2 linked regions of the Homo sapiens genome follow. The protein of the gene in region 1 purifies or fractionates together with the protein of each later gene. This does not show direct contact. Each region holds a gene or a part of one and is shown in the gene's direction. Other genes may lie near its edges.

Evidence for each region.
Region 2: the proteins of TMEM35B (region 1) and CRYBG1 purify together in Homo sapiens (affinity purification with mass spectrometry; one large-scale study listed by BioGRID and IntAct). This does not show direct contact.

Annotation. Positions count from the first base shown.
Region 1 is NC_000001.11:34,982,548-34,986,665, reverse strand, and holds the start of TMEM35B (transmembrane protein 35B precursor), read left to right. Parts: upstream 1-1,318; 5' UTR 1,319-1,360; coding exon 1,361-1,468; intron 1,469-2,718; coding exon 2,719-2,899; intron 2,900-4,118.
Region 2 is NC_000006.12:106,367,217-106,370,716, forward strand, and holds part of CRYBG1 (beta/gamma crystallin domain-containing protein 1), read left to right. Parts: intron 1-3,500. UniProt on the Homo sapiens protein: May function as suppressor of malignant melanoma. It may exert its effects through interactions with the cytoskeleton.

The DNA of each region.
Region 1 (4,118 bases):
TGATCTTGGCTCACTGGAACCTCTGCCTCCTAGGTTCAAACAATTCTCCTGCCTCAGCCTTCCAAGTAGCTGGGGTTACAGGCATGTGCCACCATGCCCGTCTATTGTATTTTTTTTAGTAGAGACGGGGTTTCACCATATTGGTCAGGCTGGTCTCTATCTCCTGACCTCAAGTGATCCACCTGCCTCGGCCTCCCAAAGTGCTGGGATTACAAGTGTGAGCCAACGTGCCCAGCTGGAAAAAGATAGATCTAAGCAGCTTGGGTAACTATAAATGGAAGCAGCAGGGGGATTTGAGACCCCTGCTTGGGGCCTTTCTGGCCCAATATACCAGGGCTTAGCAAACTTTTTAAATAAAGAGCCAGATAGTAAATATTTTCAGCTTTGCAGGCCATACTGTCACAACTACTCAATTCTGCAGTTGCAGTGCAAAAGCAGCCATAGACAATATGCAGATAAGTGTGGCTGTTTTTAAATAAAACTTATTCATGAACACTGAAATATGAATTTCATATAATTTTCCTATGTCACACAAGCTTCTTTAAAAAATGTTTTTATCATAAAAAATGTAAACAAACATTATTAGCTTGGGGGAAGGGGAGAAGCATGGAAAAAAATCAGACATCTGGCCAAATTTGGCCCATGGTTTGCCCATCCCAGCTTTAGACAGATTTCCAGGTAAGAGCAAATGGGCCAGGAGTGGACTGTAGGGCTTGGTTCAGTGAAAGCCTCTCTATCCATGCAAGTATCTGAATTTTCAAACACCTTTCACATTTCATTGTCAGCCGAGATAAATTAGAGGGAAAAGATATCTCAGGCAAAGAGACTTATTTAATAATTAATGGTTATTGATTTATTACAATTTTATAAATTAATTTACTAATTTACAAATAACTTTCTGAGCTCTTACATGTGCAGGCACTGTGCTAGGCCTGTTACAAACTCTGGAGAACTGAGTTATCCCCATATACAGATGCAGATACTGAGGCCCTTTGGGGTGGGTGACAGCTCAGATCCCACAGCTAGTGTGGCACAGGCAGGAACGAAGCCCGGGGTCTTTTGATGGTAGCTGAACCGCACCCAGACACCCACCCGTGTCTGCCAGCACTCCGTATTGGCTGGGAAACACTCCCTGAATCCAAAGGTGCCTGTTTAGTCAGTTACCAGCCAGTGGTCCTCAAGTGTCCCCACCTGTAAGATGGGGGCGCCCTGCCCCAGTACTGCAGCCTCGCGACCCCCTGGAGGGTGGGGGACGGTAGCTCAGGCGAGAGTCTTCCGGCTGCCCCGGGGAGGGAGGAAATGAGCCGGCGGCAGGGGCGGGTTTTCGGCGGGGCCAACCCACGGTGGGGGGAGCGCGGCCATGGCGCTCCTGCTTTCGGTGCTGCGTGTACTGCTGGGCGGCTTCTTCGCGCTCGTGGGGTTGGCCAAGCTCTCGGAGGAGATCTCGGCTCCAGTTTCGGAGCGGATGGTGAGCGGCGCGGGCGGGCGGCAGGGGATCGGGCCCGCGGCGGCGTGTGCTCCGCCCTGCCGCTCCTCGCCCCCGGCCCGGCAGGCCGCCTTCGGGCTTCCGAGGCTCAGCTGGAGCTGGGGGAAAGCGCCTGGCTTTCGACTGAGGCGCAGGTCCTGCCTGGGGAGTTCCTCGAGTTCTCTGGATCTTCCCTAGACGGAAGGGGACAGAACCTCCCCTTCCTGCAGAATATTGGTGGCCCCAGGCAAATCTAGAGCCTTAGGAGGTCCCTCCCACCCCCCCGGACCCTGGGGGAGGATGATGCGGTGGGAAAATGAGCTCACTTCCCGCTCTCTTCCCTCTTTTCGCCGTTTGCTTCAGTTTTTGGGAGGTTCGTGGGGTTGGGGTGTAGTAATCCTGGCTTTGCAGGGAAGGAAGCCCGCCCTGAAGGGCAAGTATATCTGCTAAAGATTGCACATCTAGTCAGGAAGCAGGACACAAGCTAGACACTCCTAACTCGGAACCCAGAGAGGGAAGCCTCTCTCGGAAGCCTGAGAGGGATGCCCTGAAGTCGTCTTTCAGCCTTCTGTCTAGTTCCAGACTCATGGGAAAGCTTTCATATCCTGTTCACCAATCTCCCCAGTCCCTCAAAAGAGCCAGACTTGTAGACCTCTGCTGGCATCTCTCTCCAAGGCCTGGATAAATCCCCAGAGACAGACAGCTTAGAGCTGCTTCCCAGCAGAGCTGAGGAGGGGAGGTAGAGCTGAGGAGTGGGAACAGGAAAAAGTATCCCCGAAAGTAAGGATGAAGTTGTCATTTGGCTCAGGGGAGGGCCTGCCTTGACAAGAAGAGTCACTTTGAGCCCACCTAACTCTGCCTCACCTCCAAATATTCCCTGTACAGCAGCCTTAAGAGAAACCAGGCCAGACACAAAGAAGGAAACTGTGGAATTCCCCAGGCCTTGGCACTAGGGAGCCAAGCCCAGCCCCCTCCTCCTGGGATTTGGGGCTGGGTTGTAATCTCTTGAGAGGTCTAGTGAGAAGATCAATCTCTGTACCACTTGGAGCATGGAGCCTGTTTCCTGATTCCAAAGCTCAGCGCCACAGGGCAGCCCTCTCCTCTTCAGGCTGACCTCAGCCCTGGACCTGACCTAGAGTAGTAGTTCTTTTCTCTGGGAAGTTGAGGGCACAGGCATAGATATGCCATGGAGCATCTGGGGAGCTCATCCTTGTTGAACAATGAGGCTAACAGGCATTCCTTGCCACCCCTAGAATGCCCTGTTCGTGCAGTTTGCTGAGGTGTTCCCGCTGAAGGTATTTGGCTACCAGCCAGATCCCCTGAACTACCAAATAGCTGTGGGCTTTCTGGAACTGCTGGCTGGGTTGCTGCTGGTCATGGGCCCACCGATGCTGCAAGAGATCAGTAACTTGTTCTTGATTCTGCTCATGATGGGTAAGGGGGCCAACTGGCCTGAGAAAATGGGGTCTTCTGGGGGAGGATTATGGAAAGACCTGGCTGTTCCCCCTTACTGTTGCCACCCTTCTTTTTTCTCTGGGATCAAGAGCACTTTCTGCTCTACCACAGTTTCCATGGTCTTCAAACTAGCACAGGTATTTTTTTTTTTTTTTTTTTTTTTTTTTGAGATGGAGTCTCGCTCTTTCGCCCAGGCTGGACTGCAGTGGCACTATCTCTGCTCACTGCAACCTCCGCCTCCTGGGTTCACACCATTCTCCTGCCTCAGCCTCCCGAGTAGCTGGGACTACAGGCGCCTGCCACAGCGCCCGACTGATTTTTTTGTATTTTTAGTAGAGACAGGGTTTCACCATGTTAGCCAGGATGGTCTCGATCTCCTGAACTCGTGATCTGCCCGCCTTGGCCTCCCAAAGTGCTAGGATTACAGGCTTGAGCCACTATGCCCGGCCTAGCACAGGTACTTTTTAAACTTAATGTGCTAGAACATTATCACATGTTAAGTGTACCTTCTACCTCCTCAATTCTAATGGCTGCATAGTATTGCCTTGTGAAGATATATTGCAAGCTCAGCGCCTCTGCTCCTTCCTCCACACATCCACTCCTAGGATGAGGGGATGGAGGAGCAGCTGCCATTTGATGCATGTGTCTGGCAGATTGGTGTAGAGAGCAGGGAAGCTGGAGAACCTTGAACAGGAAGGCAGAGAATTTCCCTAGGGAGTCCCCCTCAAGTAGCTCTGCCCACAGGAACTGCTGATGTACAAAGACAGCTGTTGCTTCAAAGGCCAGATATCTTCAGGCTCTTCTATATGCCCTGGCATCTGTTACCATTGCTGCCACTGCTACCAGGCTTGCTTCCATCTCTGGAGCTTCTCCCATTTTCAGATCTTTCCCATACCTCCAACCAACAGCCCCTGGGCTAGTCCTTCCCTCCATCTTAATCTTAGTAGATGTAGGATTAAGAAAGGAGAAGGGGCCAGACACGGTGGCTCATGCCTGTAATCCCAGCACTTTGGGAGGCCGAGGCGGGCGGATCACAAGGTCAGGAGTTCAAGACCAGCCTGACCAACATGATGAAACCCCGTCTCTACTAAAAATACAAACATTAGCCGGGCGTGGTGGTGCGCGCCTGTAATCCCAGCTACTCAGGAGGCTGAGGCAGGAGAATCGCTTGAAGCCAGTACCCAGAACCCAGTAGCCC
Region 2 (3,500 bases), on another chromosome or scaffold:
ACATAAACCCTTTTGGGGACCTTTAGTAAGACCTTCGAAACTTGAGTTCACTTCTTTTTTCTTCTTTAGCTCTTTTTTAAAAAAATATTGGGCCAGGTGTGGTGGCTCACACCTGTAATCCCAGCACTTTGGGAGGCCAAAGTGGGCGGATCACAAGGTCAGGAGATCCAGACCATCCTGGTCAACATGGTGAAACCCCGTCTCTACTAAAAATACAAAGATTAGCTGGGCGTGGTGGCATACGCCTGTAATCCCGTCTACTTGGGAGGTTGAGGCAGGAGAATCACTTGAACCAGGGAGTCAGAGGTTGCAGTGAGCCAAGATTGTGCCACCGTACTCCAGCCTGGCAACAGAGCCAGACTCTGTCTAAAAAAAAAAAAAAAAAAAAATCAAATACATATATACTCCCTTTTTCATTAATAGTTTTGCCAGAATGTATGGCTTTTGATTATAAATCTTATTTTTAGGTCAGCATGGTGGCTCATGCCTGTAATCCCAGCACTTTGGGATGCTGAGACAGGAGGATTGCTTGAGCCTAGGAGTTCAAGACAGCCTAGGCAACAAACTCAGACCCTGCTTATCCAAAAAAAAAAAAAAAAAATTAGCCAGGTGTGGTGGCACACACCTGTGGTCTCAGCTACTGGGGAGGCTGAAGTGGGAGGATCATTTGAGCCCAGGAGTTATGATCATGCTACTGCACTCTAGCCTGGGTGACAGAGTGAGACCTTGTCTCTAAAATAATCGTAATAATAAATGAGTACATCTTTTTTGTAAGCTGAGATAGTGAGTTGCTGCTGTAGTATTTGTCCACAATTAAAACAATGTAGTAAACATATTAGATATTGAAATAGTTTCTAATTCCTAATAGTCATTCAAAATACATATCTTACTATGAACATTAAAAATACATATCTGAGCCAGGCATGGTGGCTCACACCTATAATCCCAGCACTTTGGGAGGTGGAGGCAGGTGGATCACTTACTTGAGGCCAGGAGTTTGAGAGCAACCTGGTCAACATAGCGAGATCCCATCTCTTAAAAAAGATACATACACACACATACACACACACACACACACATCTGTCTTAAAGTTTGAGTTCAGCTAAGGGGTCAGTTATGTTTCAGGAATGTCCATGCAGAAGAAAAGTGATTTATGTATTGAAAATCTGTGTCTGGTCAACATGAGAAGATCGTTTGAAGCTTGAATGGTGTGTTCTTCTGTCTACCTTGAAAAACTTGTCCCAAAGTGAGTTTTCAAGATACAGGATGTATGACTGTCTAATGCTTGTGAGGAGCTTAGCAAGAATGACCAGCGAATTGCTTATGAGTCTCATTAGCTCATTTACAGTTGCCTTAAAACATAGCTGCATTGGGCTAACCCAAATGCCTCATCAACATACCTGTACAGATTCAAATATATGAGAAGTCTTCCCTCTAGAGAGTGAGCCCTTGCTTAGTGCTGCCTTTACAGCACTGTGCATCTTCTGGATTGTTCCGTTCAGTGGAAGAGAAGCAATGACCCCTCATAACAGAGACCTAGATTGAGTTGCTAATTATTCAGCCAGTATACAGTATATACTATAGTGTGGTTACTGAGATACTGAATAGTTTAAGAGTTTCTGCCATAATTAGTACCTCACCTACTACTTAAAAAAAAATAAACAACCATAACTTAATTCATGTTTTCAAAAAAAATTTAAAGCTTGAAGGAACCATATTTGTAACAACAAAATGTCACTTAAAATGATGGAGCCTATCAATATATTGTTACCTATGCAAGAACTCCCTTTACAGAGCTTGAAGTAATGCTAGTAATGTGACACATAATATATTTTATTCATGATTTGTCATTTAAATGTGTTCAGAATACTGATGGATTCATAAATATCTCATGAAAGCATACATTTTGACAAAGTACCAGGAGGCCCAAGGACATACAAATGGGGCAGAGAATCAGAATCCATTTGCAGTGTCCCCGACCTCTCTCACTGGCATGTTATAGACAAGTAAAGGTTGCACCCATAGCTAACACACACAAAAAGAAACACAATTAACAAGTACCTTTTGTTTGTTACCTTCTCATAAATGGCAATTAAATGAGTAAAAGTAGGTTGGTGTTAAGCTTGGCAAAAGATACTGTGGGGAAGAAAGTTGGCTGCTGGTTGTGTTTATTGTTTGTGCCATTTCAAGCTAGCAACCCTAACTGAGTCTCAGTCATTAGAATTTAGGTTTATTCCAAAGGTAATATCGACAGCTCAAATATGAGATTTGGCCAACAGTTACATAAAGTCACCATGCAGAGTACACCTCTTAATTTTTTTCAAATTTGTTTATAAGTAGTAGCATAAGCTCATGATAGTCTTTGGATTCGTTTTTTAATCTTATGATTAGGATCAAGGGTCAAAATAATATATGCTGCATATAAGATAAGAAAATAGAGGAAGCATGTGCTTTATAATAACTTCAGACCATGTCTGTGAAAACATTGTTTCCCATCAATATTTGATTGAGAGATGCAGTTTATTCAATATGCACTATGTATCAGACACTGTTCTAAGTGCTTTACAAATATTAACCCACTACAGTTAATTTATAACTTTCCTCAGAGGTAGGCACTATTATTAGTCCCATATTGAGGAAAAATCAGGCACAGAGGGGTATGATTATTTGGTCAAAGTCACAGAGCTCATTAAGAGTGAGGCTGGGATTCCCCAGCCGGTGATCTTGAGTCCTTGTGGTTAATCACTGCAGGTAAATCCCTGCAAGTTAATCACTGTGGTTAATGGTGCTTTCTTTATATTCTTATATGAGTTCATTTAGCCTCTAGATCTCACAAGTAGAAATTAAAATACATATGATAAATTAAGTTTTGGTACTAGACAATTTCTACGTTAAATAGTGGAAAGAAATATGTTAATTAATAGAAATATAAGTTCATTAAAATCTTAGATGAAAAAAGATTTTAAAACAGAAATTCAAAAGTATATATTATAAATGAAAGTATCATGTGTAGATTCTGAGTTTGGGGCTTCTGCCCAAGCTGTGTCAGAAAAAAGCATTACCAAGAGGTGGACCTACTTCGTACCCCTTCTTCTGCCCTGACACAGGCAGGAGAATGCAAGGTCAGAGATAAGTGGTAGATGGGGGGCCCTCTAGTTGCTGCCCATGCTAAAGAGGCATGGCAGAATTTCTCAAGTAGTTGCTTTACCAGTTGCTGCAGAAAGCTGCTCCTGGCTGCTCTAACTTTAGGCCTCTAGAAGCCCTGCTGCTTGAATCCATTGGTTTTACCTCCTGACTTATTCTTGAGGATTCCCTGGCAATGAATACAGGTTCCACCTTACATTGACCTTACACTTCAAGGATTGTAAACCATTGCTGATACTTTATCCCACTTGAGGCTTATAAGGGTTCTGTGAAATAAGCCCATACCCTCATTCTGAGGATAAGGAAACTGAAGTTCATGGAAGGTAATGCAGGTGGAGGAAGCAGGACTAAAACTC